2 linked regions of the Homo sapiens genome follow. The protein of the gene in region 2 interacts with the protein of the main gene of each other region in a biochemical or structural test. Each region holds a gene or a part of one and is shown on either strand. Other genes may lie near its edges.

Region 1 (3,819 bases), on a different chromosome or scaffold from region 2:
GAGGCGGAAGTTGCAGTGAGCTGAGATTGAGCCACCGCACTCCAGCTCGGGCCACAGAGAGAGACTCTGTCTCCACAAAAAAAAAAAAAGAAAAGAAAAAAGACTCAGGCCGGGTGCAGTGGCTCACGCCGGTAATCACAACAATTTGGGAGGCTGAGGCAGGCGGATGACCTGAGGTCAGGAATTCAAGACCAGCCTGGCCAACATGTTGAAACCCCATCTCTATTAAAAAATACAAAAACCAGCCAGGCATGGTGGTGGGCATCTGTAATCCCAGCTACTCAGGAGGCTGAGGCAGGAAGAACTGCTTGAATCTGGGAGGCAGAGGCTACAGTGAGCCAAGATCACACCACTGCACTCGAGCTTGGTCAACACAGTGAGACTCCGTTTCAAAAAAAAAAAAAAAAAGAAAGAAAGAAATAATCAGAAGAATTTATGTATTAAGATGTTCATTAGCCACATTAAAATAGCAAAAGAATGAGAAAACCCACATAGACAAGAGCACCATATGTGTTAGAGTATAGTACACTCATAAACTACAGCCATTGACAATCATTTTCAAAGAACCCTAAAGAATGAGGGAAAGGGTTCAAAATACAACATTAATGATATAAAAATAAAAAATGTAAGATATAAAATTAAAAATCTGACAATACCAAGTACTGGCAAGAAAGTAGAGAAATGTTGGATGTCTTTTGTAGTTAAAAAAGAAAAAACCGGCTGGGTGTGGTGGGAGACCAGGGCAGGTGGATCACGAGGTCAGGAGTTCAAGACCAGCCTGGCCAATATGGTGAAACCCTGTCTCTACTAAAAATACAAAAATTAGCTGGGCATGGTAGTGGGCGCCTGTAGTCCCAGTTACTCAGGAGGCTGAAGCAGGAGAATCGCTTGAACCCAGGAGGCGGAGGTTGCCATAAGCCGAGATTGCACCACTACTGCACTCCAGCCTGGGTGACAGAGCAAGACTCTGCCTCAAAAAAAAAAAAGAAAAAAAAAAGTAGAGAAATGAAAGCTCCTATATATTGCTGGTGGGGGATGACAATGGTATGAACATTTTTAGAAGCAATTTGGCAATATCCAATAAAGGTAAGAACACAGACACCCTACAAACCAGATGCTCTACATCATATCCTCAAGAGAGCCTCCAAAAGGAGGTTCATGATACCATTTATTTAATAGCCAAAAAAACCAAACAAAAACACTAAATTAGCCATCAATGGCAGAATAAACTGCAGTATAGAAATACAGCATTTTAAATAAATATCAACATATATAAATCTCAAGAATATAAGGGTAAAAAAAGCAAGCTGTGAAAGATGAACTTAGGAAAATATTTATAATTTAAAAACATGCAAAGCAGTATGACGTTATTATTTATGAACACACAGATATATATAGTATAAAAACATGAGTGGGGAGAATATGGTTCAAATTCAGAAGATGGGTGACTCTGGGGAGGCAGAAAAAGAACTGAGCCAAAAGCAAATACAACAACATGCCAATCCTGGTTAATGATGGAGCAGTTGTTAAACTATTCTCTGTGCCTTTCTATGTTTTGAAAATATTCATAAAAAAGATGAATTTGATTAAAAGTATAATATTAATTATGTGTATTTGCAAATATTACGTAGTGAATGCTAAGAGTAATTTTCTTTTCTCTTTAAAAGATTCTGCATATTCTAAAGCAGAAACATTTATTAATTTTATTTCTAAAAATAAATTTTTAAAATCAAGGACATATTTTTTCAATAATCCAAATACAGGCCGGACCGTGTTTCATGCCTATAATCCCAGCACATTGAGAGGCTGAGGCAGGCAGATCACTCAAGGCCAGGAGTTCGAGACCAGCCTGGCCAACATGGCAAAACCCCGTCTCTACTAAAAAATGCAAAAAGTAGCTGGGCTTGGTGGTGCGTGTCTGTAATCCCAGCTACTTCAGAGACTGAGGCACAAGAATCACTTGAACCTGGGAGGTGGAGGTTGGAGTGAGCCAAGATCCTGCCACTGCACTCCAGCCTGGGCAACAGAGCAAGACTCTGTCTCCAAAACCAACAAAAAAATAAATAAACACAGATGTACCAGTTTAAAAAATGTATTTATACCCTTTCTAGTTATCTTGTAAGCTGTCATCTTTTTTTTTTTTTTTTTTTTGGAGACAGAGTCTTGCTCTGTTGCCCCGGCTAAAGTGCAGTGGCACCATCTTGGCTCACTGCATTCTCTACCTCCTGGGCTCAAGCAATCCTCCCACCTCAGCGTCCCTAGTAGCTGGGACTACAGACATGCGGCAACACACCAGGCTAATTTTTTTTATTTTTGGTAGAGATGGGGTTTCACCATATTGCCCAGGCTGGTCTCGAACTCCTGATCTCAAGCAATCTGCCCGTCTCAGCCTCCCTAAGTGCTGGGATTACAGGTATGAACCACCACGCCTGGCCTATCATCACTTTTTAAACAATTCTCCAAATAAATATAATAACCTACTTTTCCAATATTCTAAAACAGCACTTCTCAAAGTATAGTCTGGAGACCTCTAGAAGTCTGAGACCCTTTCAGAAGGTCCTGTGAAGTCAAAGCTATTTTCGTAATAATAAGATGTCACTTTCCTTTTGCACTCTCATTCTCTCATTGCATAGTAAGAGAGTCTTCCAGAGATGATGTGATGTCACAAAAACTGAATACAGAAGCAGATATGAGATATTAGGCCAGACATTTTTTCAAACTTGCTAAAATTATCTGGTTTTATTTTGGAAATTTTTCATGAATAACGCAAACATGCAATGGGTTCACTTTTTTTTTTTTGAGATGAAGACTTGCTCTGTCGCCTAGGCTGGAGTACAGTGGCGTGATCTCAGCTCCCTGCAACCTCTGCCTCCTGGGTTCAATTGATTCTCCTGCCTCAGCCTCCCAGGTAGCTGGGACTACAGGTGCGTAACACCACCCCCGGCTAATTTTTCTATTTTTAGTAGAGATGGGGTTTCACCACATTGCCCAGGCTGGTCTCAAACTTCGGACCTCAAGTGATCTGCCCACCTCGTCCTTCCAAAGTGCTGAAATTACAAGCATGAGCCACTGTGCCTGGCCCACATTTTTAATGCATAAATATTTTTACATTTTCTGTTTTAATTTCTAATACTGATAGATATAACACAAAAACAAAAGCCTTTTAGAGTTCTCAGTAATTATTAATATGGTAAAGGTATCTTGAAACCAAAAAGTTTAATAACACCTGCTCCAAGAGTACCTTACAATATTTAAATGCTGGGATTTAACAAACTTACTATATTCCCCTAAATAAGCCCCTCTCTTATCTTTATGGCAGTGAGTGAATAGGAAAAGAAGGTCAAGCACTCTGTTTATAAACTTTTTTACTATCTTCTCTTAAGACCCCATCTTTTTCAAAACAGTTTTATTTCTTTTTATATCATCTTCAAATAGAACCTACCCAGTTTCCTGATTACATCAGCCACCCTTTTCTGGGCCTTGTCCTGCTCTGCCTTAAACTAATTTGTGAAAATCCTAACAGTATGTCGAATTCCAAGAGTAAAAGGACAATTTTATATGAACGTAATATAAACATTATATATGGTTGTCAAGTAGTAGCAAGACACTTTAAGTACTAAAGAATCCTGGACTCCAGGCTCAAGACAAGACTTTAACCCCAGCTCTGCAGCTGTGGCCGTGTAAATCATGTACCTTCTCCGACAGTACAGAGGCTAATCCTTGCCTATTATGCAAATTTTACAATCACCAAGACCATATATATGAACAAGTGTGCTGTAAATTAAAAATCATATTTTCATGCCTAATCTAATTTCTCAG
Region 2 (3,819 bases):
GTGGCTCATGCCTGTAATCCTAGCACTTTGGAGGTTGAGGAGGACAGATCGCTTGAGGTCAGGAGTTCAAAACCAGCCTGGCCAACATGGTGAAACCCTGTCTCTACTAAAAAATAAAAAAAAATCAGCCGGGTGTGGTGGCGGGCGCCTGTAGTCCCAGCTACTCGGGAGGCTGAGGCAGAATCACTTAAACCCAGCAGGCGGAGGTTGCAGTGAGCCAAAATCATACCACTGCACTACAGCCTGGGCAACAGAGCGAGACTCCATCAAAAAACAAAAAACCCAGAAACAAAACAATAATGATCACTGATAGTATTTTCATGGGCAAGTTAAATTTGTGATTGAGTGGAATTCTTTGTGTTTTCTATATGTTCCCAAATTTCTTGGAAGCCAGAAACATGCCTCATCCATCACTTGTTAAGTGAATGGTACCCAGGGACTTGTATCTTGTAGACACCAAGTTCATGCCTACAGCACCAACTGCATTCAGTCACAAGTTGGCCAGTTGCTTTGCTTTCCTCATACACAACTCATCACCCCTATAATTTGTCCAAATTCTTCTCAGTTTTCAATGGGAAACCCTTATAACAGGCCTAAGGGAAAATAAAAGTTATTTTATAACATGGATTTTCCAGGACCAAACACAGCAGGGACTCCTAGAATTCTTTACATTGTTTTTATAGTGTTAAAAAAAAAAGAAAAAAAAGAAAGAAAACAAAACATACCCTATCAATGGCACTGCCCTTCTTCTGAGCATAAGAGCCCCAGAGCAAGAAAACAAGGCCATTCGAGTTCTGATTTAGCCAGGACACAACTGCATCAGTGAACTGCTCCCAGCCTCGCTCCTTATGAGAGTTGGCTTGATGGGCACGAACCGTGAGGACAGCGTTGAGAAGGAGAACACCTATACACATGAGAGAAACAGGTTAAATGTAGGCTCAGGCAAATCAGCCCAATACCCAGCAACAGGAGCTAAATCCATGATGAAACCAATGCTTGATGGGATCCAGTGTAGCAAGCTGTGCTTCCCTGCTGCAGCCGGCATAATGGCAGCAGCCACTACCATCAACAATGGAGTCGGGGCTGGGCGTGGTGGCTTATGCCTGTAATCCCAGCACTTTGGGAAGCCGAGTCGGGCGGATCACCTGAGGTCAGGAGTTCGAGACCAGCCTGGCCAACATGGTGAAACCCTGTCTCTACTAAAAATACATTAAAAAATTAGCCAGCTATGGTGGCTCATGCCTGTGGTCCCAGCTACTCAGGAGGCTGAGGCATGAGAATCGCCTGAACCTGGGAGGCAGAGGTTGCAGTAAGCTGAGATTGCACCACTGCACTCTAGCCTGGGCAACAGAGTGAGACTCGGTCTCAAAAAAAAAAAAAAAAAAAAAATCTAGCAGTCGCTGGCTTACCTTGCTTGGCCCACCCAGATAAATCTCCATGGCCAGGATGAACAAAATCCTCTATGTCTGTAGACAACTCTTTATAAATGTTCTCCAAACTGAAAGCAAGCCACAAGAAAAACAAAAAACAGAATCTTAAGCATAATTTTGAAAGCTCAGTAACGTCTAAGACATATGTGAAAAGGTTAGAAGTTACAGCCAGCCCTTGGAAGGGACACTGGCACATATGGCGCCGATTAATGAGATCAACACTGCCAGTCCTCCTTCTAACAGGTGACTCTGCCAAAGACCTTTACTTTAGTCTGTACTTGGATTTAACAGCACTCTGGAAAACCTAAGTAAATCAACCCAGCAGTTACAACCCAGACCCCCACTGTTGCTCAGGGACAGTTTTCTGTCCTTAGCATATTTATGTATATCATACACCAAATCCTCCAAAAGCAGTGGTTCTTTTTTTTTTTTTTCCAGTCTTGCTGTGTCACCCAGGCTAGAGTGCAGTAGCAGGATCTCGGCTCACTGCCACCTCCGCCTCCCGGGATCCAGCGATTCTCCTGCCTCAGCCTCCCAAAGTGCTGGGATTACAGGCGTGAGTCACCGCGCCCGGCCCAAAGCAGTGGTTCTTAACCAGGGGTGATTTTACGCCCCCAAGGGACTTTTGGCAATGTCTGCACATTTTTCATTATCACGAGCTGGGGGTTGCTCCTGGTTTCCAGTGGTAGAGGCCAGGGATGTGGCACAAGATCCTGCAATAGCACAGGACTCCTCTCCTCCTCCACAACAAAGAATGACTCAGCCCCAAATGTCAATGGTGCTGAGGCCGAGAAATCCTCCTCCAAGGCTAGTGAACAGTGCCCCAGATAGTCCCACTTGTAATAAGCTAAGTACACATCTGAAAGGAATCATGTCTGGACTGCAGTCACCTGTAAAGCAACTGTACCTGGGCGGAGGCGGAACAGGCCTTTGAACACTAAAGCAGAGCCCGTGAGCTTGATTAGGTCCATGATATGGATCCTGTCCCAGGATGACAACCTTCACCTGTGAACCACCAGGGGTCAGGAATTAAACAATACTGTAATGTAAGCAGCACAGACCCTGCCTCAAACAAACATAAACAAAACAAATAAAACACTTCTATGGCATAGATTGCTAATAGCAGAGTTGCTGGTCAAAGGCTAAGCGTATTTTAAACTTGTAAAGATATGTACCTAGCTGCTTTTTTAATTTTTTGAGACACGGTTTTGCTGTGTTGCTCAGGCTGATGTGCAGTGGTGCCATCACAGCTCATGGCAGCCTCGCCCTCCTGGGCTCAAGTGGTCCTCCCACCTGAGCCTCCAGAGTAGCTGGGCCCACAGGAGTGCACCACTATGCCCACCTAATTTTTTTTTTACTTTTTGTAGACACACGGCCTCCCTTATGTTGCTGAGGCTGGTCTCAAATTCCTGAGATCAAGGGATCCTCCCTCCTCGGCCTCCCAAAATGCTGGGATTACAGGCATGAGCCACTGTGCCTAGCCCCCAGTTACTTTTCGATGAATTAAAGCAATTTAGGGCCTGGCATGGTGGCTCACGCCTGTAATCCCAGCACTTTGGGAGGCCGAGGTAGGCAGATCACGAGGTCAAGATATCGAAACCATCTGGCCAACATGGTGAAACCCCATCTCTACTAAAAATACAAAAATTAGCTGGGTGTGGTGGCGCACACCTGTAGTCCCAGCTACTCGGGAGGCTGAGGCAGGAGAATCGCTTGAACCCAGGGGGTGGAGGTTGCAGTAAGCCGAGATTGCACCACTGCACTCCATCTCAAAAAAAAAAAAAAAAAAAAAAAAAAAAAGCAATTCAGATTTCCCACCAGCAGCATATGAGGGTGTCTGCTCCCCTATATCCTCTAACAGGTGGAGCCAGAAGAGAATGAGGTCAGATCAAAAGGGCCATGGGAGTAGGTGGCAAGAGACAATGAAATGAAATGAAGTTCCTGTCACGGGAGGTGTTGAAACATAGGCCGCCTCGTCCTTCCCATCCAGGGCCCACCCACCTAGTCTTCATTCTCAAGCTTCTGCCATTGCGTTCTTAGAATCTTCCTCCACAGCTGACATACTCTATCTTTCAGAATCCAGCTCCAGATGTTCCATGACCAGGAGGCTTTTGGGGACCTCTTGTCCCTCCCCTTGGTGTTCACACCATGCCAACATATTCTCTTGTGAAACAACTCTCCCAATGCTGGTCTGTCAAGAAGCCCTGCTGGCCCATCTGATCCTCATAGGTTTGAAACTGGTTTTTGAGCATTCCCTCAAAATATTCCTTTTAATATTCCCTGTTTATACTGATTACTGGTATTCAGAATAGGGCATTCAAACAAGAAGCAAATTAGTATTGATCTTAATAGGATTTAATTTAGCTTCAAAACCAAAGAGCTAGATTCT

What was found.
Region 1: of the proteins of UNG (region 2) and DCAF1, one has a biochemical effect on the other in vitro, tested with the Homo sapiens proteins (2 studies listed by BioGRID, with this or other methods).

Annotation. Positions count from the first base shown.
Region 1 is NC_000003.12:51,423,429-51,427,247, forward strand, and holds part of DCAF1 (DDB1- and CUL4-associated factor 1), read right to left. Parts: intron 2,581-3,819; exon of another isoform or gene 2,482-2,580; intron 1-2,481. UniProt on the Homo sapiens protein: Acts both as a substrate recognition component of E3 ubiquitin-protein ligase complexes and as an atypical serine/threonine-protein kinase, playing key roles in various processes such as cell cycle, telomerase regulation and histone modification.
Region 2 is NC_000012.12:109,100,518-109,104,336, reverse strand, and holds part of UNG (uracil-DNA glycosylase), read right to left. Parts: intron 2,436-3,819; coding exon 2,338-2,435; intron 1,499-2,337; coding exon 1,410-1,498; intron 905-1,409; coding exon 726-904; intron 1-725. UniProt on the Homo sapiens protein: Uracil-DNA glycosylase that hydrolyzes the N-glycosidic bond between uracil and deoxyribose in single- and double-stranded DNA (ssDNA and dsDNA) to release a free uracil residue and form an abasic (apurinic/apyrimidinic; AP) site.